Linked DNA regions of Homo sapiens. The protein of the gene in region 5 interacts with the protein of the main gene of each other region in a pairwise test. Each region holds a gene or a part of one and is shown on either strand. Other genes may lie near its edges. The genes, in order: CDH1, DLST, FXR2, alpha-crystallin A2 chain, PRAM1, NEDD9 and SH3RF1.

The links.
Region 1: the proteins of PRAM1 (region 5) and CDH1 interact in binary tests that used the Homo sapiens proteins (3 or more experiments, as listed by UniProt).
Region 2: the proteins of PRAM1 (region 5) and DLST interact in binary tests that used the Homo sapiens proteins (3 or more experiments, as listed by UniProt).
Region 3: the proteins of PRAM1 (region 5) and FXR2 interact in binary tests that used the Homo sapiens proteins (3 or more experiments, as listed by UniProt).
Region 4: the proteins of PRAM1 (region 5) and alpha-crystallin A2 chain interact in binary tests that used the Homo sapiens proteins (3 or more experiments, as listed by UniProt).
Region 6: the proteins of PRAM1 (region 5) and NEDD9 interact in binary tests that used the Homo sapiens proteins (3 or more experiments, as listed by UniProt).
Region 7: the proteins of PRAM1 (region 5) and SH3RF1 interact in a two-hybrid assay, tested with the Homo sapiens proteins (one large-scale study listed by BioGRID).

Annotation. Positions count from the first base shown.
Region 1 is NC_000016.10:68,739,818-68,744,055, forward strand, and holds part of CDH1 (cadherin-1 isoform 1 preproprotein), read left to right. Parts: intron 1-2,661; exon of another isoform or gene 2,662-2,756; intron 2,757-4,238.
Region 2 is NC_000014.9:74,895,010-74,899,247, forward strand, and holds part of DLST (dihydrolipoyllysine-residue succinyltransferase component of 2-oxoglutarate dehydrogenase complex, mitochondrial isoform 1 precursor), read left to right. Parts: intron 1-3,359; coding exon 3,360-3,490; intron 3,491-4,238. UniProt on the Homo sapiens protein: Dihydrolipoamide succinyltransferase (E2) component of the 2-oxoglutarate dehydrogenase complex. The 2-oxoglutarate dehydrogenase complex catalyzes the overall conversion of 2-oxoglutarate to succinyl-CoA and CO(2).
Region 3 is NC_000017.11:7,594,252-7,598,489, reverse strand, and holds part of FXR2 (RNA-binding protein FXR2), read left to right. Parts: intron 1-2,495; coding exon 2,496-2,666; intron 2,667-3,732; coding exon 3,733-3,811; intron 3,812-4,142; coding exon 4,143-4,238. UniProt on the Homo sapiens protein: mRNA-binding protein that acts as a regulator of mRNAs translation and/or stability, and which is required for adult hippocampal neurogenesis. Specifically binds to AU-rich elements (AREs) in the 3'-UTR of target mRNAs.
Region 4 is NC_000021.9:6,557,955-6,562,085, forward strand, and holds part of alpha-crystallin A2 chain, read left to right. Parts: intron 1-2,117; 5' UTR 2,118-2,828; coding exon 2,829-3,017; intron 3,018-3,965; exon of another isoform or gene 3,966-4,061; coding exon of another isoform or gene 4,062-4,131. UniProt on the Homo sapiens protein: Contributes to the transparency and refractive index of the lens. In its oxidized form (absence of intramolecular disulfide bond), acts as a chaperone, preventing aggregation of various proteins under a wide range of stress conditions.
Region 5 is NC_000019.10:8,489,522-8,493,344, forward strand, and holds the end of PRAM1 (PML-RARA-regulated adapter molecule 1), read right to left. Parts: intron 1,637-3,823; coding exon 1,579-1,636; intron 1,475-1,578; coding exon 1,366-1,474; intron 1,236-1,365; coding exon 1,073-1,235; intron 989-1,072; coding exon 955-988; intron 852-954; coding exon 817-851; coding exon of another isoform or gene 706-816; coding exon 668-705; 3' UTR 535-667; downstream 1-534. UniProt on the Homo sapiens protein: May be involved in myeloid differentiation. May be involved in integrin signaling in neutrophils. Binds to PtdIns(4)P.
Region 6 is NC_000006.12:11,222,492-11,226,729, reverse strand, and holds part of NEDD9 (enhancer of filamentation 1), read left to right. Parts: intron 1-4,238. UniProt on the Homo sapiens protein: Scaffolding protein which plays a central coordinating role for tyrosine-kinase-based signaling related to cell adhesion. As a focal adhesion protein, plays a role in embryonic fibroblast migration.
Region 7 is NC_000004.12:169,096,276-169,100,112, reverse strand, and holds part of SH3RF1 (E3 ubiquitin-protein ligase SH3RF1), read left to right. Parts: intron 1-3,425; coding exon 3,426-3,594; 3' UTR 3,595-3,837. UniProt on the Homo sapiens protein: Has E3 ubiquitin-protein ligase activity. In the absence of an external substrate, it can catalyze self-ubiquitination. Stimulates ubiquitination of potassium channel KCNJ1, enhancing it's dynamin-dependent and clathrin-independent endocytosis.

The DNA.
Region 1 (4,238 bases), on a different chromosome or scaffold from region 5:
TTGGCCAGGCTGGTCTGGATCTCCTGACCTCAGGTGACCCACCTGCCTCAATCTCCCAAAGTGCTGGGATTACAGGCATGAGCCAGCACGCCTGGCCAGGAATAATGATCTTTTTTTAAAAAAAGCATGGTAGTTCTGACTCAGGATGAAAATGCATACACCCAATGTACTTCTAGGCCTTATCGTTGTGACAATCTAGAGTTTGCTTTGTTCCACTTGACTGTTGTCCAGGGAGCAAGGGAAGGGGCTAGTTTCTCTTCTGGTTTCACTGAATCCCAAGTGCTTCCTTTATATCAAACCACTTTCTCCTCTCTCATGATTTTACTTGATTGGGTATCACAATAAGAGGCATTTTTTTTTTAAGAGAAATCACCCACAATTCCCCTGAGGGAACACCTCCACTGTGTCATTCTTCCAGTCTTTGACCACATGAATCTTTAGCAATCACGCTGTTGTCTTTACATTTTTTTTTTGAACTTTGGAAGTCATTCGAAGTTTTTTACAGAGAAACTACAGCTCGACTGATGAAGTATATTTGCTCTGTGTGCTCTAGAGCTTTCTATTGGATCAGAAGTTATCTCTAACTCCTGGGCTCAAGTGATTCACCCGCCTTGGCCTCCCAGAGTGCTGGGGATTGGATATTTTGATGTCAGTGGGCATTGAGGAGTGGCTTCTCGGGGAAGGCAAACTTGATCCAGTCTTGGAGAGCAAGGCAGGGGCTAGAAACAAGCTTGTATCTGAGCATGCGTCTGGGGTGTCCCAGTGCTAAGGCTGGTGACTTTGTTTTCCTGCACCAAGATATTTGGTAGCACCAAGGGTGGGTTGGTCTGGTTTTTATTTCTCCCTTCTAAGCTCCTGTGTTTGACCAATAATATTATTACATATTAACACTAATATGTTAATAATTAATAGTGACACGTATTCACTTTTGCCTCAGACTCTGGGGCAAGTGCTTCACATATTTTACCTCATTTAGTCTTCACTAGAACGTTAGGAGGGTGGGCACTGTTATTCTTCCTACTTTGCAAGTGAGGAAACTGAGGCATAAAGCAATTCTGTAATCTGAAGCATCCGCAGTTGGTCTTTTCTCTTCCTTTTTCTCCTTGTTTTTCACCTCAATAACCTGAAAAAACAAAAACAAAGAAAAAAGGTGTTTGGGGAATTAGTGTCCAATGTGAAGTAAGCTGAGAATGGAGGTGTTGACAGGGTGGGACCTCCGAGAGGGGGTGGTGATGATGGAGATGGGTCAGACCCGGGGGAGGTGGCGGGGGACCCTGGGACTGGTGATTTAGTGGGAAGAGGCAGCCTTCACACAGAATCCGCAGGCCTCTGGTGTGGTTGGTTTCAGTTCCCTTTATGTTCACAGACCCCCACCCCCACACAACAGATTTCCTGACATTTAATATTTGTTTTGGCTTTTTTGGACTGTGGGGTCTCCTTGTATCAGTCCAATGTGGAGTCGCCCCAGGATGGAAGTGCCCTTCTGGTAAAATCACACGTTCAATCTGAGGAACTGGCTTGTGATTTTAAAAGGCCGCTAGGACTTGGGATGTGGCCTGACTCTCTTTGGACAGTGCACGGAAGTGAAGGGATGGATGTAACATTGGCACCAGGTTTAGACATTGGCTTCATGGAGAATTTACTCCATGGGAATTTTGAAACTTGAAACCTGTCACTTTTTGTGCACAGGCAGCTGTAGGGTCTTAACTCAGGGGACTTTGGAGTGTTTGCTAGGGTCATTCCTCTGCCCCATGCTGTGGCTGACCCCATGATCTCAACCTTGTATTTATTCCATTGGTTTATCTCCAGCTTCTAGAATGAAGACCTTTACAAAAAAAAAAAAAACCAAACTCAACTGTAATAAACCAGTTTTTGTTTTGAGACGGAGTTTTGCTCTTGCCGCCCAGCCTGGAGTGCAGAGGTGCGATCTCGGCTCACTGCAACCTCTGCTTCCTCAGTTCAAGCAATTCTCCTGTCTCAGCCTCCTGAGCAGCTGGGATTGCAGGCACATGCCACCATGCCTTTGTATTTTTAGTAGAGACAGGATTTCATCATATTGGTCAGGCTGGTCTCAAACTCCTGACCTCAGGTGATCCGCCTGCCTTGGCCTCCCAAAGTGTTGGGATTACATGTGTGAGTCACCATGCCTGGCTAATAACCCAGTCCTTTAGAGTTGCTGCTTATTTTCCTTCTTCATAGCACACACCGGTCTGAGAAACCCAGGCTATTAGACAGTTTGGGATCTCTGAAGTATTAGCCTAGTAACCACAGCTGTAAGTTGACTCAGGCGCGGAAAAAAGAAAAGCTGGCAGGCTTTCCCAGTGATTGTTTTCTTCCTTTGCTTGCTCTGCAATCTGGCCTTGGAAACACAGGGCCTATATTTCAGTGTTGAGGTTTGGCTGCTTGAGGGGTTGACCTAGTTCACAGGCACCCAAACTTTGTGGATTAAATACACCCATTTCCCCTCCTTTTTTTTTTTTGAGACGGAGTCTCGCTCTGTTGCCCAGACTGGAGTGCAGTGACGTGATCTCGGCTCACTGCAACCTCTGCCTCCCAGGTTCCAGTGATTCTCCTGCCTCAGCCTCCCTAGTAGCTGGGACTACAGGTGTGTGCCTCCATGCCTGGCTAATTTTTGTATTTTTAGTAGAGACAGGGTTTCGACTACGGCCATACCACCCTGAACGCGCCCGATCTCGTCTGATCTCGGAAGCTAAGCAGGGTCGGGCCTGGTTAGTACTAGTACTTGGATGGGAGACAGGGTTTCACCATGTTGGTTAGGCTGGTCTACAATCTGGAGTTTTGCTCTTGTTGCCCAGGCTGGGCAAACTCCTGGCCTCAGGTGATCCGCCCACCTTGGCCTCCCAAAGTGCTGGGATTACAGGCGTGAGCCACTGTGCCCGGCCATTTCCCCTCCTTTCTGAAGGATGTGCTGAACGTTTCAGAAAACAGTATGCAGCCTCCCTAATACAATTAGACTTTTAAAAAGCAAACCCAGAAACCAGCTTTGGGATCACCTTACATCATCAGATCCCCACCCCCTACCCCTCAAACTCATAAAAGTCACTTCCCCAATTACTCATGTCTGTGACAAAGGTTGATCTGAGCTTACTGGGAAAGAAGACCAGTGGGCCGCCCTCCTGGCCTTGCCTTTGTGTCTCTGGAGGTGCGGAGGTGGAAAGTCTTGGGCCCGGCAAGGCCATGTAAAGAAGGCAGGCTGCTGCTTCCTCCCAGTGGGGCCCTGCCTGCCCCTCTCTGCCAGGTGGTTATGGAAATCCCTGTTTGCTCTCCAGGGCTTTTTATTGGGTGAGGCTTTTCTTCCAAAATGCTCACCTTGTGTCTGTTACACATTCCCTTCCAAGGTAGCCCCAGATACGCCAGAGGCTGAAGCTCTCGTATCTCCCAGAAGCTGCCCAAACCCTAAAATCCCCGAGAGGCACCTGTCCCAATCCAATCCTTGCTGGGTCTCTTTCTTTCTTTCTTTCTTTCTTTCTTTCTTTCTTTCTTTCTTTCTTTCTTTCTTTCTTTCTTTCTTTCTTTCTTTCTTTCTTTTCTTTTCTTTCTTTTGAGACGGAGTGTCACTCTGTCGCTCAGGCTGGAGTGTAGAGAGGTAGGATCTCAGCTCACTGCAACCCCCGCCTGCCATGTTCAAGTGATTCTCCAGCCTCAGCCTCCTGAGTAGCTGGGATTATAGGCACGCAGAAGCATGCCCAGCTAATTTTTGTATTTTTAGTAGATTCGGGGTTTCACCATGATGTCAGGCTGGTCTTGAACTCCTGAGCTCAAAGTGGTCTACCTGCCTCAGCCTCCCTAAGTGCTGGGATTACAGGCGTGAGCCACCGAGCCGGGCCCCTTCCTGGGTTTCTATCCTGCCTCAGCTCTATCTCCTTTGAGGGCACAAGGCTTTCAAAAAGGAGAATGAAATCATTCAGCAGTGGCTGTTTAGGATCCTTCAGCGAGGAAGTACAGGAAACTAGGTTTGAATTTTAGCCACTAGCTATTTGACTTTGAATAAGTCACTTTACTTCTATGAGTCTCAGTTTCCCCACCTGTAAAATGGGGCGGTAATACTTATTGATCTATTATGAGAATTAAGTATGTACATTCATTTAGTTCACAAAAGTGAGTGCCTGTTGTGTGTTAGCACCAGGCTAGACCCTGAGGTTACGGCAGATTGGACGGAACATACATGCCAATGGGCAGGAATGTAAAGAGAGAAAGTAGAGAGAATATTTTCAACA
Region 2 (4,238 bases), on a different chromosome or scaffold from region 5:
TTGAGTCCAGGAGTTCAAGACCAGCTGGGTAACAAGGCGAAACCCCACCTCTACAAAAAATACAAAAATTAGCCAGGTGTGGTGGTGCACATCTGTAGCCCCAGCTACTTGGGGGGCTGAGATGGGAGGATTGTTTGACCCCGTCACTTACATATTTTCCTAAGTGATTCAGAATCGAGTGGATGAAAAGGCAAAGATAGGCTGGGCTTGTCTTTCATTTTACCCAGCTCTGACAGTGAAATGGAAAACAAGTTGTGTTTTTAAATAACCTTAGAATGTTAACCAAAGGTACTAATTCACTAGGTATGCCCATTTCTGTAGTGAGCTAATTGTTGACTTACCTGTTTTCTTCAAGATTTCAATGTGTTCAAGTATCAGCACTGTCAGGAAGAGAAATTTGACAAACGTGTTTTGAGTGCGTACTGTATACAGAGTACTGTACTGTGGAATTCAGTGGGGATAGACGCTGGGCACCATGGCTCGTGCCTATAATCCCAGAGCTTTGGGAGGGTGAGGAAGGAGGATCGCTTGAGCTTAGGAGTTGGAAACCAGCCTGGGCAACATAGCAAGACTGTCTCTACATAAAATTTAAAAATTAGCCAAGTGAGGGCTGGGTGCGGTGGCTTGCGCTTGTAATCGCAACACTTTGGGAGGCTGAGGTGGGTGGATCACATGAGGCCAGGAGTTCGAGACCAGCCTGGCCAACGTGGTGAAACTCTGCCTCTACTAAAAATACAAAAATTACCCAGGCATGGTGGCGTATGCCTGTAATCCCAGCTACTCGGAAGGCTGAGGCACAAGAATTGCTTGAACCCAGGAGGAGGTTGCAGTGGCTGATATCGCGCCACTGCACTCCAGCCTGGGCAACAGAGCGAGATTGTGTCTCAAAAAAAAAATTATGTATGGTGGCATGGACCTATAGTCTCAGCTACTTGGGAGGCTCAAGTGATCTTCCTGCCTCAGCCTCCCAAATGGCTGGGACCACTACAGGCATGTGCCACCAGGCTTGGCCAATTTTTTTAGTTTTTGTAGAGACAAGGTCTCGCTGTGTTGCCTAGGCTGGTCTCCTGAACGTCTAGGGTCAAGCCATCCTCCTGCTTTGGTCTCCCACTGGGATTACAGGCATGAGCCACCATTCCTGGCCAAAAAAGAATTTTTAAACAGGTCTTCAAGAGTGACTAGCATTTTGTCAGCCTTGTGGAGAAAGGTCATTCCAGATGATGTTAACAGTGTAGACCATGAGATGGGAAAGTAGAAGACACATTTGAGAAATTGTCAAAAATCATTTCTGTTGTGAGGATTTTGTATAGCAAAGAATGGTAAAGAAGGTTGGATCCTTATTTCAGAATGTTTTGAATGCCAGGGTAGGAGTTTATATTTAATTCAGGAAGCAAGTCAAGTCTCAGGTCATCTCTTTCTTTCTTTTTGTCCTGAGGGTTTAGTCTGCGAATCTACTTTTCATTAGAGAAATTTGCTTTTCTTTGGAAAGGGTTTGAAAAATAGGGAGAAGGGAGTGTTTTCTTGATAGTGCGCTGTGGCATTGTTCAGAGTAGGGCTCTGTGACCTGTTTTACTAGATGTCATCCATTCTGTTGGGAAACTTTCCGAAGAGACTGGATGACATTCAAGCCAAAGATTTCTCTCTTGTTCATAGGATGTAGGGGAAGGACCTTGACTAATGAATCACAAAGGCTGCAGCTTATGTTTCAGTGCATTAGGGCCAAATTGTACACAAATTGAATTGGACTTTGAAATTCTACCCAGTTTCTTAAGACAAAACATGTAAATATTTGTGGCCCTGAAAGATGCAGTTGGCCCAACAGCTTTGATTGGAAAGGAAGCGTAATAGCTGGATCTCCTTTCAGCAGCTAATCAAGGTGTCACTTAACAATGGCCTGCGGTCTTGCTGCAGCCTAATTTGGTTTAGATCGAGTGCCCTTTGGGTCTTGTGCTGATCAGCTAACCCATAAGGGACCTTTCTGAGACCTTCTCCCTTCCTCTATTGTCCCAGCCTTTGCCTCCAAGGGCAGAGCTCTGAAATAGAAGCTACTTAATGACCAGACAATAACATTTGGGCAGGTTTGAGAGCAGAGATGTTTATCACATCTCTTTCCCTCTTCTGCAGCTCTTGTGTCTTGGGAACCAGTAATGTCTTTAGGGTGGTAATCCTAGCACTAAATAAGGTTAGAATCAGGAAAACAAGCATTTTAAACCCAATCAGTCCCCCTTGGAAAAACTTCCTTTTTCAAAAACAAAAGATCTGAAGGGGGCTGTTAAAATTGTACCACATCTTACCTTTCATGCTAATGTCGAATTAGGCCATTAGAGGGAGAAAGGGAGAACTGAGCATTTGGCCCTGAGATAAAGTTAAATTCAATTTTCATCGTAGAACTGCATTACTGCATTCCGATAAATACTGAGGTTTATGCAGCAAAGTGATGGGAAAGCCATTTCTCACTAACTCTGCAATGTGTCATTGAAAAAAAACCAGTCCCAAAAGAATAAAGGCTGCTCATGTTGTAAAGGCTTTTCAGAAGGCTTGCTGCTTAATCTGAAGGGAACCAGCCTAAACCACAAGTGGCCACTTTTCTAAATACCAAGGAAATCACAGCCATTAAACTAATCTTAGGGCAAGAACTATGTCTTAATTAGCTTTGTATCTTGGTACCTGGCCCTGACCCTCACATGTAGTAAGGTGTTAGTACCTGTTTGGAAGAATAAGTGGATGGAACTGCCAACCCTGGAAAGATGAAGAACGGATATGACTTTCCGTGGGCCTGAAAGAACACTGGGTTATACCCTTCCCTGCAGAGTCATGACTGCTTTTTCCCGCATGGAGCCTCATGTACCCATGAGCTGTTTATTTTAGTCTCCACTAATCAAGAGATAGGAGGAATATCACACGGGAGTTATACTCAGATTTGGTGGGGTTTTTTTTTTTTTTTTGTATTCTAACAAGAAATAAAAAGAATATTGCTTATTTTGTAGATTTTGTTTATACTTTAAAAAATTTTTTTTCAGGATGGATAGCTCAGTTATTCAGGGCAAGGATGTTGGTGTGCTGTGTGATCTCTTGTTCATATGATGTGTCACTGAAATCTGTGACTTCTAGACCATGAAGGAGCCCTGTAAAGAGATCAACCCACCTTAAAGACAGATTGGGCCTGATTCCTGTAGATTTCTTTGTAAAAGAACAGAGTTACTGTGTTAACCTCAGGTAGACTATTTCAAAACTTGAACTAAGGTAATGGTCCAGAGTGAGGGAAAAGCTCTCACCTAATTGTGTATATGGATTGAGAAACCTGTGTGAAAGTCAAAATGCAGGCTTTGTGGTCAGTTTGTTTTGTAATATTTTCACAGTAACATCCAGGAGATGAGGGCTCGGCACAAAGAGGCTTTTTTGAAGAAACATAACCTCAAACTAGGCTTCATGTCGGCATTTGTGAAGGCCTCAGCCTTTGCCTTGCAGGAACAGCCTGTTGTAAATGCAGGTGAGTTGCTTGTGGCTGGAATTGGAGAGGTCCTGGGAGGTAGGTGTATGAGCACAGACCTGCTCCCACATGCAGAGGATCAACAGACCAAGGCTTTTTATTTGCTACCTATAGAAATATCAGTATCTTCCCCAGGGATTTCTTGGTTCACCTTCCTGAAGCAGCATCATGATTACTTTCTACCCGCCAGCTGGGCAGAACAGTTTCTCTTCCCAGTGTACAGCTCGGCAGCTGCTCAGGCAGCAGGCAGTTCTGGGATAGCCCAGCTCTCCAGGCTGTCTCCTGTCAAGGTGGAAGCACGTGTTCTGGCTTCCTCCCCTCCCCCAGCTCCACAGGCCCTGTTACCTTGGGGCCTGACTTCCACAGTTGGTGTAGGCTCCTGGCTGACCTTTGATCTTAGGTCGATGGGCCTCACTGGGAGCTTCGGCTTGGCCTCTCATGGACCTGGTGCTTATTTTCTTTCCTTTTTACTTACCTACGTCATTGTAGTGTTGACCTAACAAGCACTTTGTTTTCCTGTTGACACACTTCTCTGTTCCTTGGGAGATTGGAGAGGGGTCAGTGCTACTTTTGCCATCCTCAGCAGTGTCAGGGGCCCTAAAGGTCTAGAAGTAGAAGCCCTAGTCCCTCCTGTTGAGTGGTGCTCTAGGGAGGTAGAAGGCCATCTTTGTTTTGCCCAAATGTATACCTCTTCTTTTTCCCATTCTTCTCATGCCTCCCTGACTGGCTCTCATCTTTTTCAGTGGCC
Region 3 (4,238 bases), on a different chromosome or scaffold from region 5:
TGGTTTTTTGTTTTGTTTTGTTTTGTTTTGTTTTTGAGACGGAGTCTCGCTCTGTCACCCAGGCTGGAGTGCATTGGCGTGATCTCGGCTCACTGCAAGCTCCACCTCCCAAGTTCACGCCATTCTCCTGCCTCAGCCTCACGAGAAGCTGGGACTACAGGCGCCTGCCACCACGCCCGGCTGATTTTTTTGTATTTTTTTTTAGTAGAGATGGGGTTTCACCGTGTTAGCCAGGATGGTCTTGATCTCCTGACCTCGTGATCCACCCACCTCGGCCTCCCAAAGTGCTGGGATTACAGGCGAGAGCCACTGTGCCCGGCCGAAAGTGCCTTCTGTTTTAAACTCCTGTTTCAATGACAGATGGAAAGGGGGGCAAGAATGGAAGCAGGAACAGAGCACAGTAGTCCAGGTGAGAAACTTGAACTGGAGTGCTAAAGGAAGAGAGAGAGAGTAGTTTTATGTAGGATAAATTTTACGAGTAAAACCAGTAGGACTGACAGGCTCTGTGATACTGAGAGATACATATTTGGTCTCCTGACCAGGCTCCTGGCATTCAACTTCTAAAATCCTTGGAATCTCCAGTGATGTGTGTTTTTGTGTGCTGATGAGTTGATTCATGGCTAGCCCCTCTAGGTGGCTTCATGATTAGAGGGTTGGAACTTTCAGCCTCACCCCCACCAACTTCCTGGGAGGGGAATGGGGCCAAAGGTTAAGGCAATCACTGAGGATCAGTGATTTAATCAGTCATGCCTAGTAGTGAAGCCTCTAAAAACCGGAAAGGGGCCGGGTGCAGCGGCTCACGCCTGCAATCCCAGCACTTTGGGAAGCCGAGGCAGGTGGATTGCCTGAGGTTAGGAGTTTGAGACCAGTCTGGCCAGCATGGTGAAACCCCTTCTCTACTAAAAATACAAAAAAAGGGAGGCAGAAGTTGCAGTGAGCAGAGATCATGCCACTGCACTCTAGCCTGGGTGACAGACCCCATCTCAAAAAAAAGAAAAAAAAAAAAGAAAACCCAGCTGTTCTGCAAGCTTATCTAGAAGACGCTTATAGGTCATTGTAGATCTCTTCCCCTCCCCTCCTAATGTAGTGATTTTGAACACTCAACTTAGTTTATTTTTCCAACTTTCTCTTCTTGCCTGGTATAAATCCTTGGTATAATTCAGTCCTATCCAACTTGGAAGTGGGAAGTAGTGTATTTCAATCTAGGAATGTCTCCTTTCAGGTATTGTTTCTATTTGGTGCTTACAACATGGGATTCACTCCTCTAAAACCTTTCCTGTCTTCCTGCCCCTGAACCCAGGGGTTCCTCTAAGGACTGATTGAGAAATGAAGTGAAAGCCTGGTGTTCTAGAGGCATGTTTTCTGTTTTTCTTAACCCCTCACTTTTTTTTGAGACAGAGTTTTGCTCTGTCACCAGGCTGGAGTGCAGTGGCATGACCTCGGCTCACTGTAACCTCCAACTCCCTGGTTCAAGCAATTCTCCTGCCTCAGCCTCCCAAGCAGCTGGGATTATAGGCACACCCCACCAAGGCCAGCTAATTTTTGTATTTTTAATAGAGATGGGGTTTCACTATGTTGGCAGGATGGTCTTGATCTCCTGACCTTGTGATCCACCTGCCTCAGCCTCCCACAGTGCTGGAATTACAGGCGTGAGCCACCGCGCACAGCCTACCCCTCACTTTTTACTTAAGTTGTTGAGTTTTATTTGGGGATGAGTTGATATTTGTTTGATTAAGGTAAGAGTTCCTTACACTTGCATGTACCTTGTGAGAAGTACTTTCACACCAGCCTTGTCTAATCCTCTTGCTAGTCTTGAGAATAAGATAAGTTGGATATAATCACTTAGCAGATGACACAAGAGGCAGAGTATGTTTTGTTTAAGATCACACAGATAGATACTCTTAGGGACAGATACTGTTAGGGCCAAATCCAGAACTTCGGTGTGTCCCAGTCCAAACTCTGCCCTCTTTACCTTTCCTCCCCCACAAACCACTGGTATTTGGAAGGAGTGGAATTAAAAGTTCCTGACCTTGGCCGGGCGTGGTGGCTTATGCCGGTAATCCCAGCACTTTGGGAGGCTGAGGCGGGCGGATCACCTGAGGTCAGGAGTTTGAGACCAGCCTGGCCAACATGGTGAAACCTTGTCTCTACTAAAAATACAGAAATTAGCCAGGCATGGTGGTGGACACCTGTAGTCGTAGCTACTCAGGAGGCCGAGGCATGAGAATCACTTGAAGTCGAGAGGCGGAGGTTGCAGTGAGCTGAGATCGCGCCACTGCACTCCAGCCTGGGCGACAGAGCGAGACGCCATCTCAAAGAAAAAACAAAAAGTTCCTGACCTTTCCACACAGGTCCTCGTGGTCCGCGGACTCCAGAGTGGTTCTAGCTTTCTATTAATATCACACAGTTTTCCTTATTTAAGTTATGCAAAGGGTCGTGTGCCTGGGACTGTGAGATTCTACCACCATGATTCCTACAGTGACTTTTCCTTTCAGACAAGCAAGCAGTTGGCAGCAGCCTTCCAAGAGGAGTTCACAGTGCGAGAGGACCTGATGGGACTGGCAATTGGGACTCACGGTGCCAACATCCAGCAGGCCCGAAAAGTACCTGGGGTGACCGCCATTGAGTTGGGTGAAGAGACCTGCACTTTCCGCATCTATGGGGAGGTCAGCAAAGGATGTCTTTCTTCTGGGTCTCTTAGGGGATAGAGGGAAGAGAGGCCGAAGTAGAAAATAAGCCTCAAACTGGGCACAGTGGCTCACACCTGTAATCCCAGCACCTTCGGAGGTCAAAGTGAGAGGATCACTTGAGCCTAGGAGTTTGAGACCAGCCTGTGCAACATAGTGAGACCCAATCTCTACAAAAATTTAAAAATTAGCTGGAAGTAGTGGTGCGTACCTGTAGTCGCAGGTACTTGGGAGGCTGAAATGGGAAGATAGAGGGGAGGATCACTTGAGCCTGGGAGTTGGAGAACAACCTGGACAACATAGAGAGACCCTGTCTTTACCCCCCAAAAAAACCAAAAACCAAAAAACGTTAACTGAGCGTGGTGGCATGCATCTGTGGCCCCAGCTACTTGGCTACTTGGGAGGCGGAGGCAGGAGGATCACTTGAGCCTGGAAAGTCAAGGCTGCAGTACACCATGATGGTGCCACTGAACCAACCTGGGCAACATAGTCAATAGAGTGAGACCAAAAAATCAAAAAAATAGACCAGATCTCTGTTGCCCAAGCTGGTTGTTAACTCCTAGCCTCAAGCAATCCTCCCTTCTTAGCCTCCGAAACTGTTGAGATTATGGGTGTGAGCCGCTGTGCCTGGCCAAGGTCCTCTGTTTTTTTTTTTAAGTTATTTATTTGTTTAATTTTTTTTTTTTATGAGATGGAGTCTAACTCACTCTGTTGCCCGGGCTAGAGTGCAGTGGCACAATCTCAGCTTATTGCAACCTCTGCCTCCTGGGTTCAAGAAATCTCCTGCCTCAGCCTCCGGAGTAGCTGGGATTAGAGACGTGAGCCACCAATTTTGTATTTTTAGTATTTTAGTATTTTTGTATTTTGATTTTTGTATTTTTAGTAGAGATGGCGTTTCACCATATTGCCCAGGCTAGTCTTGAACTCTTGAGCTCAATTTATCCACCTGCCTCCAGCCTCCCAAAGTGCTGGGATTACAGGCGTGAGCCACCACATCCAGCTGGTCTTCTGTTTTAGTAACAACTCCCTGCTGTTCTTCCTTTAGACTCCCGAGGCTTGCCGACAGGCCCGAAGCTACCTTGAGTTTTCTGAGGACTCAGTGCAAGTGCCCAGGAACCTGGTTGGTGAGTTGGTGGTGTGTATATACAGTTAGAGGTCAGAATCAAGATTCTCTACAGTGATTCTGAGCTTTTATCCAGGATTGGCACCTCCCTGTGGACTCCCAGTTTCACAAGGACAGAGAAACAGTCTGTAATGGGAGTGATAAAAATGAAAGAATAAATTTCTAGGGATTGTAACATTTTGTCCTGTAAAAACACATCAGAAACCTAGAAGCAGGAGAATGAAGTAAATGGAATCCATATAAAGAAAATGAGGCTGGAAGACGGTGTATCAGCTTTATTCTTATTTCCTTAAAAAAAATAAAAGGCTGAATTCCTCATTTACCTATTCCAGGCAAAGTGATTGGAAAGAACGGGAAAGTGATCCAGGAGATTGTGGATAAATCTGGTGTGGTGAGGGTTCGAGTGGAAGGTGATAATGACAAGAAGA
Region 4 (4,131 bases), on a different chromosome or scaffold from region 5:
ACTAAAAACACTGCCATCAATGTTCTGATGTTTAAATCATGTTTTGATGCAATGTTTAAACAAATCAAAATGGGTCGGGCGCAGTGGCTCACGCCTGTAATCCCATCACTCTGGGAGGCCGAAGCGAGTGGATCACCAGAGATCAGGAGTTCGAGACCAGCCTGGCCAACACGGCGAAACCTCATCTCTACTAAAAATATAAAAATTAGCTGGGTGTAGTGGTGTGTGCCTGTAATCTCAGCTACTTGGGAGGCTGAGGCAGGAGAATCGTTTGAACCCGGGAGGCAGAAGTTGCAGTGAGCTGAGATTGTGCCACTGCACTCCAGCCTGGGCGACAGAGCGAGACTCCATCTCAAAAATAAATAAATAAAATAAATAAGTAAATCAAAATGAATGCAAAAAATTTGTGGTGGACAAACTGTCAACATTTTACATAAAGCCAGGATGAGGACGACGGCCTTCTCCTTTTGCTTCAAGCTCCAGCATGGCTCTGCCCAGCACTGACCGTGCTCCTGGCCTGGCTCGACCCTCCCCAGGGCCAAGCTCCATGCTGGTTTCCATCCCAAAGGACTCTTCTTCCCCCTCCCTGTGCCCCGGGAATAGGCAGCCAGCACAGTGGGGCCGCCCGCTGCCTCACCCAGACCCTGCCACTGCTTGGATGTTGACCCCCAGACTGGAAAGGTGGCTTTAAACCCCCTTCCCTTCTTCCAAGCCAAGTGACCTGGGTGTGCGGCTTAACCTTCTAAGCTCCCATTTCCTGGTCTATGAAGCGGGAATGATGCTGGGACCTGCTTCACAGGGTGGCTCTGAGGACCCACAGGCAGAGAGGTCTGGTGTAGGCTTTCGGGGGAAGCACCCATCACTCTCCCAGCGTTTCCTATCTGCACCTTAATTTGGCACCCCAGGGAATCGCTCCTCTGGAATTGTAACCTTGCAGGGCAAAAGCTATCATTTCAAGATTTTTTGGGATCCTGTGTCCCCGGACAGTGCTGTAAATGTAGGAGGAAGGGTGCTGCTCATGGGTGCTGCTCATGATGGAGGTGCCCCGTGGAGCACGCCTCGGAGCCCCCCCTTTCATCCCTGATCCCATCTGGGATGTGTCAGGTCTGATCCGCATACACTGGGGCATCTGACATTTCATGGCCTTCTGAGCCCATGGGCTGGAGATGAATTTGCAAAGCCCGGGAGTGTCCTGGGTGTGTGTTCACTCCACACGCACGAATCTGTTAGAGGCTGAGTAGGAACTAGGAGGCCAAAGAGAACCAGGCAACTTCCCACAGCCTGGACCGTACACTAGAAAAGCTAGCCTGGGAGAGGGGGCATGGCCTCTTCCCAGGCTGGCAGGGGGGATGTGGGGGAGGACCATGCTCCCCAGGGCCAGTTTACCAAAATATCAAAATACCAAAATATCAAAAGACTTAAAACTAGGAGTGAGCCAGGTGCAGTGGCTCACGCCTGTAATCCTACACTTTGAGAGGCCAAGGCAGGTGGGTCACCTGAGGTCAAGAGTTTGAGACCAGCCTGGCCAACACGGTGAAACCCTGTCTCTACTAAAAATACAAAAATAATAATAATAATAATAATAATAATAATTAGCCAGGTGTGGTGGCAGGCACCTGCAGTCTCAGCTACTCAGGAGGCTGAGGTGGGAGAATTGTTTGAACCTGGGAGGCAGAGGTTGCAGTGAGCTGAGATCGCGCCACTATATGATCTGGGCGCCACTCTGGGTGACACAGCAAGACTCCATCTCAAAAACAAACAAACAAAACCGGGAGTGCCTGGACACTTAGTGAGAACTGGACAGGGGCCATGGGTCGAGGAGCAAAATAATCACCAGGACTTGTGGATAACAGGATCATGTGGGTGGTGGGTCCGCATGGGTGACAGGGACGTGGGGACATGTCGCCACCCTGACAGGAGCAGCCCAACTCAACAGCCACGGCAGGTCATGCCACGGAGGCTCGAGGCGTTACGTGGGGATGTTACATCAAGGCATTACATCATTACGAGATGTAACGCTCGAGGCGTTACATCGAGGGGATGATGGCCATGGGGCTGGGCGTCCAGGGTGGGCCGCAGAGGGAAGCTCACCACGTGGTGCTCTCATCTGCCCACAGCCCAGCCCGTCTTCCTGTTGGAGGCATGTGACCCCTGGAGGACAAGCATGAAACGCCATAGGGCTCCCCCAGGTGCTGGAATTATGGCACCTTGCAGCTTCTTCTCCACGAGTTTTAACAAGCATGCGTACTTTTGTAAGTGGTGAGTGTAACGGAGGTTCACAGATGCACTCCGCTTTGGAAACCAGTGCACTCTTGCCCAGGCCCGGTGAGACTCTGACGACGATGTGTCTAACCTCTGTGTCTAACGGGGGTGTGGGCTCTCCCTCCTCTGGCGACCATGAGGACCACCCCGGCAGGACAAGGTGTGCAGAGAACTAGCATGGTCCCTGGCACGTAGCCCCTGCCCAGTGACTGGCAGATGAGAAGCTCCATTGTCGCCCCAGGCGAGTATGGGGCACAGGCGCCTCCTTGGGTTGTCTGCCCTCCCGGGAGCCCCAGGGTGCCCAGGCGGGCCTCAGCTGAGTCCAGGCCTCGGGGACAGTCCGTGCAGCCCCTCCTGGGGCTGGGGGCGGGCACTTGTCCCAGCCACGTTTCTGCTGACTGAGCAGCCTTCTTCATGAGCTCACGCCTTTCCAGAGAAATCCCTTAATGCCTCCATTCTGCTGGTGGCATATATAGGGAGGGCTCGGCCTTGGCTCCACACTGCGCTGCCCAGAGGCCCCGCTGACTCCTGCCAGCCTCCAGGTCCCCGTGGTACCAAAGCTGAACATGGATGTGACCATCCAGCACCCCTGGTTCAAGCGCACCCTGGGGCCCTTCTACCCCAGCCGGCTGTTCGACCAGTTTTTCGGCGAGGGCCTTTTTGAGTATGACCTGCTGCCCTTCCTGTCGTCCACCATCAGCCCCTACTACCGCCAGTCCCTCTTCCGCACCGTGCTGGACTCCGGCATCTCTGAGGTAAGACGTGGCCCGTGGTGCTGGCCTCTCCTCGCTGCTCAGAGGGTGGTGGCCTCGGTGGGTGGAGAGCGATGGACTCTGGTCTTGCTCCGTCAGGCAGGTGGCCTCGTCCCACTTCATCCCCTTGCAGAGGCTGGGCGAGAGCCTGTGTCCCCACTGCAGCCACGTGGTAGAGCTTCCCCTGGCACTGGGGAGAGGGTGGACAAGGGAGCAGCCTGAATCCACCTTTGCTTTCCTCCATCAGCTCATGACCCATGTGTGCTTTGTAAGGCACCAGCCACATACTGGAAACCCCAAGAGCAGCCCATCCAGGCATGCGTGGTGGCGAATGCCAGCTCCCGGGTTCCTCTGGTCTCCTGAGTCCCGGAGACCTGGGAGCAGGTGGGGGTCATAGTCCTGAAAGCCAGAGAGCAGGGCGTTCCTAGCACCTCCTCCAATGAGCTCGGCCTGCCCACGGCTAGCAAAGCTCTTGGCAAGTTTACTTAGGTGCCCTGCCAAGGCTAAAAGGACAGGCAATGGACGCCCCCCCCCCCCACCCAACCACAGGCCTCCTCTCTGAGCCACGGGTGAGCGGTGCAGGTTCTGCTGTTCTGGAGGGCCTGAGTCCCACCCAGCACCTCATAAACAGGGTCCTCCCCAGGGCTGCTGCAGTAGGCATCAATGCCAGGGTGCAAAATGCCTCAGGGAGCCAAGGCTGAGCCAGGGGAGTGAGAAGGAGCATGTGGAAGTGCGTTTTGGAGAGGCAGCTGCGCAGGCTGTCAGCAGGCTCCGGCCGCTTCTATAGACAGCATGACACCAAGGGCAGTGACCTCATTCCACAGGCTGAGTCCAGCCAGCCAGCCAAGCATCACCAGCCAGACGATTGACCCTAACGGACCAACCAACCCGTAACGACCCCTCCTACCATAACCAGTAGCCAGCCAGCCCATAACCAGCCAACTTATCTATAACCAGCCACCTGACCATAGCCAAACAACCAGCCGGCCCACCAGTAGCATTCAGCCCCTCAGCTGGCCCTGAGGGTTTGGAGACAGGTCGAGGGTCATGCCTGTCTGTCCAGGAGACAGTCACAGGCCCCCGAAAGCTCTGCCCCACTTGGTGTGTGGGAGAAGAG
Region 5 (3,823 bases):
CATCCTGTCTCCCTGTTGTGAAGTTAACGCCCTGGGGCACAGGCCCTGCCTGAGTCAGGCTTGTTCTCTGGCTTTTTTTTTTTCCTGCTGAAACAGACCAAACTGTGTGCCACCTTCCATGCGTGTTCAGTCCTGCCAGAGGCTCAGGCCAAATCTGATTGATACCTGGGCTCTGTCAGAATTGGGTATAGGCCCCACCCCTTCCCCCAGTGAAGCGCTCTCAGGATCCACTCAGGCCAAGCAGGTGTGCATACCTGGCAAGGAGGCCTGGCTGCTGCTGTTCTGTTGGCTGTGGAGGGGCGCGTCCTGCCCGGCTGCCTGCCTGGTAGCACATGCTGTTCTGATCACCCGGAGCCCCCCTTGCTCACCAGCTTCTTGCCACCCTTTTCTCCCCACTGGCTTTTATCCCTGAGGGGTGAGACCATGGCAGGGTGACCCCAGACACACCCCCTTTTGTGTTTGGTCAGGGGGTTCCCGTGCCTTTGCTCCACTGTGTGCCAATCAGGAGGGAAAGAAAAGACAAGAAGCAGGGACTGCTTTAAACTGGGGCTTTATGTGGCCAGGTACAAGCCCAGGCAGCTCTGTGACTTTCCCGCGCCGGGATCCAGGGCTCCTGGGTGAGCGGGCGCTGGGCTGGCTGGCTGTCCTGGCCCCACGCCTACCGGTCTTACCGTCCCAGGGGGAGTGGTTGGTTTTCCAGGGGATCTGCCGAGGAAGCGTGACTTCCATGGACCCCTCTCCCCAGAAGCCCAATAGTGAGCAGCGCCCCCGGGGAATCGCCAGGGTCCCTCCAGCCCTCCCAGAGTGTCCACGTACCGCAGAAGTCGACATCATCGTACACCTCCGTCTCCCTGGCAGAGCACAGTTGGGTCAGCAAGGGGCACCGTGGCCCATTCCCCCCACCCTGCACCACACACCCCGCACTCCCCCACCACGGTCAGGGCTGGCACTCACAGGGGCAGGAGCGCTGTTCTGGGCACGTAGCCATCTGTGGAGAGAGTGGGCATGGTGGGTTCTGAGGCCCAGGGTGGCGGCGGGGACCTCCCGGGGCTGCGGGGCCGGGCGCACTCACATTTGCCTTTGGGGTCCCGGCACAGCATCTCCTCATTGCTGGTGAACTCGATCACCTCCAGGATCTCCCCGCGCCGGATCCCGAGGTGCTTGCCACCCCCGCGACGTGTCTTAGCGTTGGGGTCGATCATCATCTTCGTGTGAACCACGATCTCCCCTTCAAACTGGGGCGCGAGATGTTAGGGCCTCTGCTTGTGCTGCCGCCCTTGGGCCCCTGTCTTCTTTCTGAGCCTGGGATCGGTGGGACCCTGGTCTCCGCCCTGCCAGGACTCCTGCTTAGCTCAGAGGCCTCACCTTGAACTTCTTCCGGAACTCCCTCTCGGCCTTCTCTGCCTTCCTCAGCTGCTTCAGCAACTTTGGGTCCATGGGTGGCAACTGCTGTGGCTGGGGATCCTTCTCCTTCCTGATAGCCCCCACCAAGGAATTGTGTGCTCGTGAGCAAGTTGTGCTCCTCTGGGGGTTCCTGGAGCTCGCCCCCCGTCTGCCCACCCCCTCTGCCCATGGCACCTGAGCGCTGGGTCTTGTGGTGGCCTCCTGGCGGCTTGCTGAACTGAGGGCGCTTCATCTGGGGACAGTCAGGACTCCGAGTCAAGGCAGGGCCCGCCGGCTCAGCCTTTACCCTGGTAGCTGTTTTTTGTTTGTTTTTGTGTTTTTGTTTTGAGACGAAGTCTTGCTCTGTCACCCAGGCTGGAGTGCAATGGCACAATCTCGGCTCACTGCAACCTTCGCCTCCTGGGTTCAAGCGATTCTCCTACCTCAGGCTCCCGAGTAGCTGGGATTACAGGTGTCCATCACCACACCTGGCTGATTTTTGTATTTTTAACACAGACAGGTTTCACCATGTGGGCCAGGCTGGTCTTGAACTCCTGACCTCAGGCAATCCACTCGCCTCGGCCTCCTAAAGTGCTGGGATTACAGGCGTGAGCCACTGCGCCTGGCAGGTGGCTGGATCTTGAGTAAGGCCTCCCTGTGTCAGTTCTGAGGACTCCCCAAATCCCACCAGGTCCCCTCCCAAACCTCTCCCTGCCCACCTTCTTCCGCAAGCCTTTCTCAGGGGTCATGGGTTCTTCTGGATTGCCTTCCATTCCCTTAACTCCTGCCACGTGCTCAGCATGGTGGGAACTGCTGGGCCACGCCCCTCATGGCAGCCCTCTCAGCAACCTTGTTCATGCCAGTAGACGCCACTGTCATGCCCAACTTGTCCACAAGGAAATAAAGGCTCAGAGAGGTCAAGCAAACTGCCCAAGGTCACCCAGCTGGTAAATGGTAAAGGCAGGATTTATCTGTAGGCTTCGAGGCCATTTCACTTCTGCCTCCTAGAGCAAGTTGGGTCTAGGGTTCTTTTTTATTTTTTGAGACGGAGTTTTGCTCTTGTTGCCCAGGCTAGAGTGTGCAATGGCGCGATCTCAGCTCACTGCAACCTCCACCTCCTGGGTTCAAGCGATTCTCCTCCCTCAACCTCCCAAGTAGGTGGGATTACAGGCACATGCCACCACACCCGGCTAATTTTTTTTTTTATTTTTAGTAGAGACGGGTTTCACCATGTTGGCCAGGCTGGTCTCAAACTCCTGACCTCAGGTGATCCACCCGCCTCGGCCTCCCAAAGTGCTGGGATTATAGGCGTGAGCCACCGTGCCTAGCCGTTTTTTTTTTTGTTTCTTTTGTTTTTGTTTTTGTTTTTGAGACGGAGTTTCATTCTTGTTGCCCAGGCTGGAGTGCAATGGCATGATCTCAGCTCACTGCAACCTCTGCCTCCTGGGTTCAAGCGATTCTCCTGCCTCAGCATCCTGAGTAGCTGGGATTATAAGCACCCACTGCCACACCCAGCTGATTTTTGTATTTTTAGTACAGATGAGGTTTCGTCATGTTGGCCAGGCTGGTCTCTAACTCCTGACCTCAGGTGATGCCCCTGCCTCAGCCTCCCAAAGTGCTGGGATTACAGGCCTGAGCCACTGCACCCGGTAGGTTCTGGGGTTCTACTGTAATGAGATTTGGGTGAAAAACTAAGGCAGAAGGGAGGATGAGGAGAGGCTGGCCCATGGGTACAAAGTTACAGTTAGGAAGAAGAAATTGGGTGTTCCATTGCACAGGAGGGCAATGATAGTTGACAGTAAAATATCATGGCCAGGCATGGTGGCTCATGCCTGTCATCCCAGCACTTTGGGAGGCCAAGTCGGGCAGATCACTTGAGGTCAGGAGTTTGACAGCAGCCTGGCCAACATGGTGAAACCCTGTCTCTACTAAAAATACAAAAATTAGACGGGTGTGGTGGTGGGCGCCCATAATGCCAGCTACTCAGGAGGCTGAGGCAGGAGAATCGCCGGAACCTGGGAGCTGGAGGTTGCAGTGAGTCAAGATGGCGCCGCTGCACTCCAGCCTGGGCGACAGACCAGGACCCTGTCTCAAAATAGTAAATAAAAATAATTTTTAAAAGATGCTGCTAGGGTAAGCGTCCTGGACTGGTGACTGATGATGAGACTCTGGACTGAGGGGTCTCCCATGGTGCCAGTCTCCCTGTGCCACTTCCTGGCAAATGACCAGGCTCCCAAGTCAGAGCCCTGCTGGCCAAGGAATTGGCTTCAGGTGGGAGCCCCAGGAACCCTGGTGAGTGAAAGATCCAGAACCCAGAGCCCCAGCATGTCCTTTCCGAATGGCTCAAAGTATCCCGCCGGACATTTCAGGCCTGTAGTCCCTCCAAGCAGCCCAAGGAGCAGCACCTGAATCGTGCCCGCCAGATACCAGGCATGGCCAT
Region 6 (4,238 bases), on a different chromosome or scaffold from region 5:
TATAGATAAAAGTGTTTAAAGGAGACATTCACTAGAATTGTTTACCCATAACAGAAATATCAGTGAGGAAGAGAAAGTCGTCAATTCAAAAAACCAAAGATAAAATCCAAAGAATGTAAGTTGGGAGTACATGAGAAGTTCAGGGTGAACTCTCTTATCCAATTGCAGTCAATTAGAATGACATAAATGTAAAGTAAGAGGTCTTGGTTGTCTATGTTTAGATCATTTTAGGGTCAGAAAGAAATCTGAACAAATTGGTTTGAAATGCCAACCACTAGGACCAAGGCAATACTCTGCAAGAACATATAGGCTGAATTACCAGGACTTCTCGCCAAGACAAATGAAACAGGGCCATTGGGAAGAAATACTATATTTCTAACTTAAAATGCCAGAGAGTAACTGACGGTTTCCTAGGTGATAGATGGTTGCAAAGAGTACGGGCATGAAAAGGGGACACACACACACAAAAAAAAACCCTGTTTATACTTTGCCAACAACACCCCCCTCCATCTTATTTACTTTGAACATTCCAGCCATCTCTCTGCAGTAATTCCTGCTGGCTAATGAGGATTCCACACAGCTAGGGAACATGACAGCCTGCAAAGGATTATTTTCCTGAACAATCTGCATTTTAAGATAAGTCACCTTGTTGGTAACCTTTTGTACCCTTCATTGGAAAGGGTGACTCTCTTTGAAGACAGTTTGACCAAACAATGAGATCTAGGTGAATTTGAGGAAGATAGAACGGGCACTCCAGAAATATGGATAGTGGTGGAGCTGACAGCAGTTTTTCATGGTTGACGTAGGGAGTGGAGGCAGCTGTCATGGAGATATTAAAGTTGCCAGTGGAATGTTTTCCAATACATATTCCTGGGCCCCACAATGGACTATTAAATCCCAGTTATTCTTTAAAAAAAAAAAAAAAAAAAGGCCGGGCGCGGTGGCTCACACCTGTAATCCCAGCACTTTGGGAGGCCGAGGCAGGCGGATCACGAGGTCAGGAGATCCAGACCATCATGGCTAACACGGTGAAACCCCGTCTCTACTAAAAATACAAAAAATTAGCTGGGCATGGTGGTGGTCACCTGTAATCCCAGCTACTTGGGAGGCTAAGGCAGGAGAATGGCTTGAACCCGGGAGGCGGAGCTTGCAGTGAGCCGAGATTGCACCACTGCACTCCAGCCTGGGCGACAGAGTGAGACTGTCTCAAAAACAAAACAAACAAACAAATAAACAAACAAACAAAACAGCTAGTCTCTTTCTCCCTAATCCCCTCACTAACCACTACTAGTGCTTCTGGTGCTTACACGGTGTCTAAGTAGGTAGTTCATGATCCTTATTCAAAGGCTGGATCCAGTGATTTGTAAGTGTCATGTTTCTTTGCAAATCTCAGTCTTGCGAATTAGAATTCCCCCTGATATGTCTAACATATCAAGGTAATAGTTATATGATGTTACTAAAAATGTCCCTCACATGAAATGTTATGTTTATGCCCACAGGAAACAAAGATTTAGCAACAAATATGTAAAAGTGAAACCATTTCAAGCAACAAAAATATTTGATAGCCCTTTTGAAATTAATTTGAATTCCTTTTTTTACTGTGTGTATGTGTGGTTGGGGGGCAGGGGGGCGGTGGATGGATTAATTATCTGTGAAACCCAGTAGAAAGTTGCAGTAACCAAAACACGTGTAAAGTTCAGATTTGAACCAGATCTCCTGTCTACTTCTTAAGGCATTGTGCATTTAGATAGTATATGTCATTCATGTTTTTCCTAGGTTTTATTGGTCAGGCAGAAACACTGTGCTATCTCTTGGTAACTATGAGTTAGCCTTAATCTCAGTGATTCATGACAGTCCACTTGTTTTCCTTAATTTAATGCCTCACTCCCACAGGAGATGAGGCTAACTGAGGACTCATCTAGAGGACTCTTTAAGAATGAGCTGGGCTTTTCTGCCCCCCAACACCCTCCGCCTCCCAAAATAACCATAACAGGCAAAGCCAGCACACAGAAAATGGCAGTAAGTGGACTTCTAGACACTCCAGCTACTTCTGAGTCTTCAGTGTCAGGACACATCAGTCATCTGTCGATGAGATTTTTTTTTTCTTTTCCTTTTGTTCTTTCGTTCTTGTTACTAGTCACTGTGGCATGACTGAGAGTTTGGCAGGAAATGGGTTCGTGGACCTGTGGTACAGTCGCACTACCACAGCAGCATTGGCCTAGCAAAATGTTGAGCCCTCTTTCCCTTGCATGCTCCCCTGGGGCAGAAGTCCAGTGCTATCTCCGCTTCCCTGACCCTCTCCACTCAGAGCCCAGCATGACAAGCACACCTTTAAATGGGTTCAAGGAAGGGAATAGCAGAAATGAACGCAGCCCGACAGCCTCCTTTCTCTTGATAACCCCTGTCACTGTGGAGCTGGACTTCTAGGCTATCTCACAGAGGCCCAGAGGCACTGGAATCGATCTCATTTCCTTACAGACATCACCTTGTCAATTAGAGAACACATAACGTTGATTGAATTTAAGATTCTTATCAGTGCCTAGCTCTTTTTCTCCCAAATCCGAAATTCAGCCATGGCAGATCCATAATCAAGAAATATACTTACATTCCCATCCTTTGTTGTTGGTTTCAAAAATATTTCTTTTTTGTGAGTATGTATCCATGTTTTACAAACCAAAAAAATGGGACATATGGTCTGACAAAGGGAAGGATATTTGAACCTGGGGACTGCCTGGGAGAGTCCGGAAGCACATGGTCACTCTAGAGACTGTCATCAAGGGCTGCTCCTGAGATTAATCCACTGTCGAAGGCATTATCCCATCTCCCTTACAGCAGCCTTTTGCAGGAAACTGTCTAAGATGTTGTGCTTTTTTTTTCATTGACTTGTAAATAACAAGGTGCTCTCTTTCCTTTTCTTTGCAGAAATAGGCATCTTTAGAAATAAAGCCATGCCCATTTTGAAATAAGAACTTGTTTGGAACACCTGAGAGTGTTAAGCAGTGCGGGGGATTTGCATCCAATTGTTCTTGCTTTAAACCTGGCATGGGCGCTCTCGCCTCATAGCCCGCAGCACCTGAATCAAGCCTCCTGCCTCCCTTATTAAGATCTTAATTACAGACTCAGCTTAGTTCATTGCTGAAGGGAAAGAATTTCATTTCTCTGAAGTGTGTCTGTTTTTTGGTGTGGCAGGTGTAATCATGATAAGATCATTTCTGGGTTTTTTGTTTTGTTGGTTTTTTTTTCCTAGAGGAAGTTTTTTTTTCCAAGGGGAGGAGTACAGTTCTTAAGACACAATTTCATGAGCTCATCTTGGCGCAGTAATAATAACTGTGCTTTGATTTTATAGAGACTCTTTTTCCTGAAGAAATCAGAGCATTTGGAGTAAATAATCTCATGATTCCTCATATTTTTATAAAGAAGAACATGTCTATTAATATTTATTTTGCAGACAGGGAAACAGAGGCACAAAAGGCAGAGATTTGATGGTCATTAGTCTTCAAATGTGAAGTCTGAAGCTAGACCCTCCTAATTCAGTCTGGTGTCCATTCCTCTATCCAGGGTTTCTCAACCTTGGCACTATTGACACTTAGGGCCAGGTCATTCTTTGTGGTGGGGGCTGTCCTGTACACTGTAGGATGTTTAGCAACATCCCTGGCCACTCTACCCACTAGATGCCAGTAACACACGTGTGCATGCATGTGCACATGCACACACACACACAGTGACAACCAAAAAATGCCACTAAACATTGCCCGTACCCAGAGGGGACAAAAATCCTCCTAGTTGAGAAGCAGTGGTCTAATCTCTTCTACTCCTTCTCCTTAAAAATAACTGCCCTACTCAAAAATACCCCCATAGAACTGACTGCCATAATTTTATCATTACTGATATTGAGCTTAATGTAACAGGTCCTAACCAAAAAGCAACTTCCTCTTACAGGCCTAGCCCCAGTTTGTTTCAGTGAATACCACAAAATACTAAGAAGCGCAGAGTTTCATTCAAGTCAAATGTAAAACCCATCAAACCATCTCTAAGGCAACTTTAAAGTATTTCTCTGGCTTCTCTCTCTACAATATGTACCTCATCATGGAACATGCATTTAGAGCTGGGTCTTTAAGAAAGCTATTTTATTCTCATAAACTGGTGTATAACATGTGCGTGTAAGAGCTTGTCTCTCCACCTCGGCACTGAACAATTTCACAATGAAGGTTTTTTGTTCCCTTTGCTCCTGCCACCTT
Region 7 (3,837 bases), on a different chromosome or scaffold from region 5:
CTGTGCCTTACATCTGTTTGTTGGTCTGTAAATGTTCTACTTGGCAAAGCCTTTCAATGCCTGAAATAGTTGGCCAGTTATGCCCAGTATTTGGCCTTACAAATCTGTATTAGAAAACTGCAAACCACCTCACAAGGCTCAAGATCAGGACCTGAGCTGGAAGATTTCTAAGTAGAGTCTATTACTCCTGCACCTGGTAGTCTTCATACGATCAAGACTGTGTCACAGTTTCCATTATGCACATAGTTTCTCATTCCACCCGCCCCCCCAGAGGTTTATAAAACTTAGCAATGAAAATTTGCTCCCACTGGGAACTTGGCAGGAAGAGTATGTTCTTAGCCCAGCAGCAGTTCTAGTTCAAAATTTTTTTTTGACAAAATTGGTTTAGTGCATTTTATAAAATGCATATATTAATCTAATTCACTTCAAGTTTTTCAATAACCATTTTTATTCCATTTCACCTTTAAGGCAGCTCACAGAGAACAAGTAGGGAATATATCTCATGAGAAGTCTACTCTGAATATGTTTTGAGTCACTTGTACATTTTTTCCCAGAATTATAAAGCTTTGCCTTAAATGTTTAACTTGCCCCACATGGCAACTACATCATTGCTTTTTCATGGATTTTTAGCATGTTGACATTAGACTTGAGAAATGTCATCTGGATCCTTCTTTCAGATAAATTCATGATGAAATTATTTGTCTTGCTTTTAAAGGTGTCAGAGAGCTGGGCATAGCGGCTTATGTCTATAATCCCAGCACTTTCTGGGGCTGAGGCTGGAAGATTGCTTGAGCCAAGGAGTTCAAGACCAGCCTGGGCAATATAGTGAGATGCCATCCCTACAAAAAGTAAAAAGATTAACCAGGTTTGGTGGCACACACCTGTAGTCCCAGCCGGAAGGCTGAGGTAGGAAGATCAGTTAAGCCTGGGAGGTCAAGGCTACAGTGAGCTGTGATTGCATCACTGCACACCAGCCTGGGCAACAAAGTAAGACCGTCTCAAAATAAAGATATCAAAGAAGGGATTCCAAAACCCTAACTGTGTTGATCTAAAGTTTGTCAAATCTCATTTTCAGGAAATGAGGCCTGAGTTGTGGCCTGAGTTCGTTTCCTAGTTAGAGATGTCCAGCCACTGACTGGCCCATTCTTCACCTCCTTGAAGTGCCAGGCCTCTGCCTACTCTTGTCTAAGCCATATGATCATAATGGGAGCTAATATTTTCAGGTTGAACTCTTTGTCAGACACCATACGAAGAGCATCATACTTGTTTAACTCATTACAGTCCTATTCTACAGATGAGGAAACAGACTGAGAGCTGAGATAACTGGCCCAAAGTTAAGCTGCTCTAACTGACCTTAAAGACTGTGTCAATCCTTAGGCCAGTGTTTCTCCCGCTGTGTCATGCTTCCTTCCTCATTCCATGCTTGATCAAACCCCAGCCTTGTGGTCTATGAATATTCATGTTTGAATTAGCTGAACCTTTCTCAGATATGATAAGCCAACTTCTGTGCTGTGCTTTTGCTTCAGATCTTGGGTAGTAATTTGGTCCCTGTGCCAAAGGAGCTCAGGTTGTTCAAGCAGCCACTTACCTTTTGCAGAGATGTGTTTTTTTAGTGTAATAGTCTGGGACTCTTGCTGTGGTCTTTCTTAAATGGATTTTGGTTTATATGGAATGGGAATTGGTGAAAGGGGCAGGCTGTAATAGGTTTCAGAAGTTTGGGGACAGTTGTATAGAATTTGTTCTGCCTATCATTTTGAAGCCATAATATTTTTCACTTTCAGTCAGGAGTGGGTCCCACGAGGCTATACACTCATTTTCTGACTTTGAGAACCAAATGAAAGTAGAAACCCAAAATCAACTTTATGACTGACTACTCATTACTTAGCATCAAACAGTGAAAGATGTATTTATTAGATATCTGTTGCCATGTAACCAGTTACGCCCAAAAGTCAGTGGCTTAAAACAATAATAAGCATGTATTATTTCACACTTTCTGTGGGTCACATAATTATGGAACAGCTCATCTGGTTGGTTCTGGCTTAGAGTATTTCTTGAGATTGTAGTCAAGACATCAGCCTGAGCTGATGCTCAACTGGGGCTGGAGGATCCCCTTCTAAGATGGCTTATTCACATCACTTTTTCTGGTTAGTTTAGGCTTTTGGAAAGAGGCCTCAGTGCCTTACCATGTGTTTCCTCTCCATAGAGATGTTGAGTGTCCTCACAACATGGCAGCCAGTTTTCCTGAGTGACCGATCCAAGAGAAAGTAAAGTGGAAGCCATAATGCCTTTTATGATCTAGCCTCAGAAATCACCCACTGTCATTTCTGCAACATTTTATTGGCCACACAGGTCATCCTGTGCATCATAGGAGGAGACTACACAAGAGTGTGAATACCAGGAAGCAAGGATCACTAGGGCCATCTTGGAGGTTGGCTACCATACACCACCATTCTTTTCCCCCCTTTTGTTGAGAAGAGGAGTAATGCAAATAATGCTGGAAAAATAGAGAAAGATAAAAGGATATAGAGTGTAAAACAAGTCACCTCCCTCTCGTTTCCTACAAGCTGTAATTCTGCACAGGAAGGCTAAGGAGCATGGAGGCAGGGGCACAGATAATATTAAACCAACTAAGCTTCTGCCATTTTTAAGCGATAATGACACCTTTCCCACTAACTCCAAATTCTGAGCCAAGGAGAAACAGACCCAAATGTCAGAATAATAGAGATGAGAATGTCAACCTCGTTACTGGTAATGTTGGATTGAACTTGTGGCCATAGCCCTCCCCTCCATGTCTGGACCTTGGGACTACCTTCCCAAGGGATAATCTGGGTATGTGGGGCAGATTACCTTCCTCAGAATTGCTGCCTCGCCCATGTCAAACACCAGTGTAAGGGACGTAGGGACACAGAGACAGACTTCCAGACTCACCTTCCTGACCTCTGTGTGCTTACAACATAGAGGTGGAGCAGAGCCTCCTTAGCCTGTGGGCAGGCGGTTCAGAGAGGACTGAACCCCCCCTGCTCAGCTACTTCTCCCAGTCTCACCAATCAAATAAATTCACTCCTGTTTCCTTGGAGAAGAGGGAGGGATAGAAATGATACCCCTCTCGGGAAATGAAATGAAACTCTCCTTTATGGCCAAGATACAAACACTGGTAGGGAACAAGGATGGCTGTCCTTGTTAAGGTCACTCAGATGAACCAGTCTGGGCCATCAGTAGTGGGTTGACACACATATCCAAATCCAGTCTTTGTTAGTACTAAGTCTCTACTAAACAGAAAATAGCAGTATTTTGAGTTGTTTTACAATCATAAATGAATTAATGTTATTTCCTATTTATGTTGAAGGTTCGTGCAGACTAACAGTACACCATTTTTTAAAATCACTGCTTTGAATCGCCTTAACCAAAATCTCTTTCTTTTCTAGGCACAGGGTGGTGGTTTCCTATCCTCCTCAGAGTGAGGCAGAACTTGAACTTAAAGAAGGAGATATTGTGTTTGTTCATAAAAAACGAGAGGATGGCTGGTTCAAAGGCACATTACAACGTAATGGGAAAACTGGCCTTTTCCCAGGAAGCTTTGTGGAAAACATATGAGGAGACTGACACTGAAGAAGCTTAAAATCACTTCACACAACAAAGTAGCACAAAGCAGTTTAACAGAAAGAGCACATTTGTGGACTTCCAGATGGTCAGGAGATGAGCAAAGGATTGGTATGTGACTCTGATGCCCCAGCACAGTTACCCCAGCGAGCAGAATGAAGAAGATGTTTGTGTGGGTTTTGTTAGTCTGGATTCGGATGTATAAGGTGTGCCTTGTACTGTCTGATTTACTACACA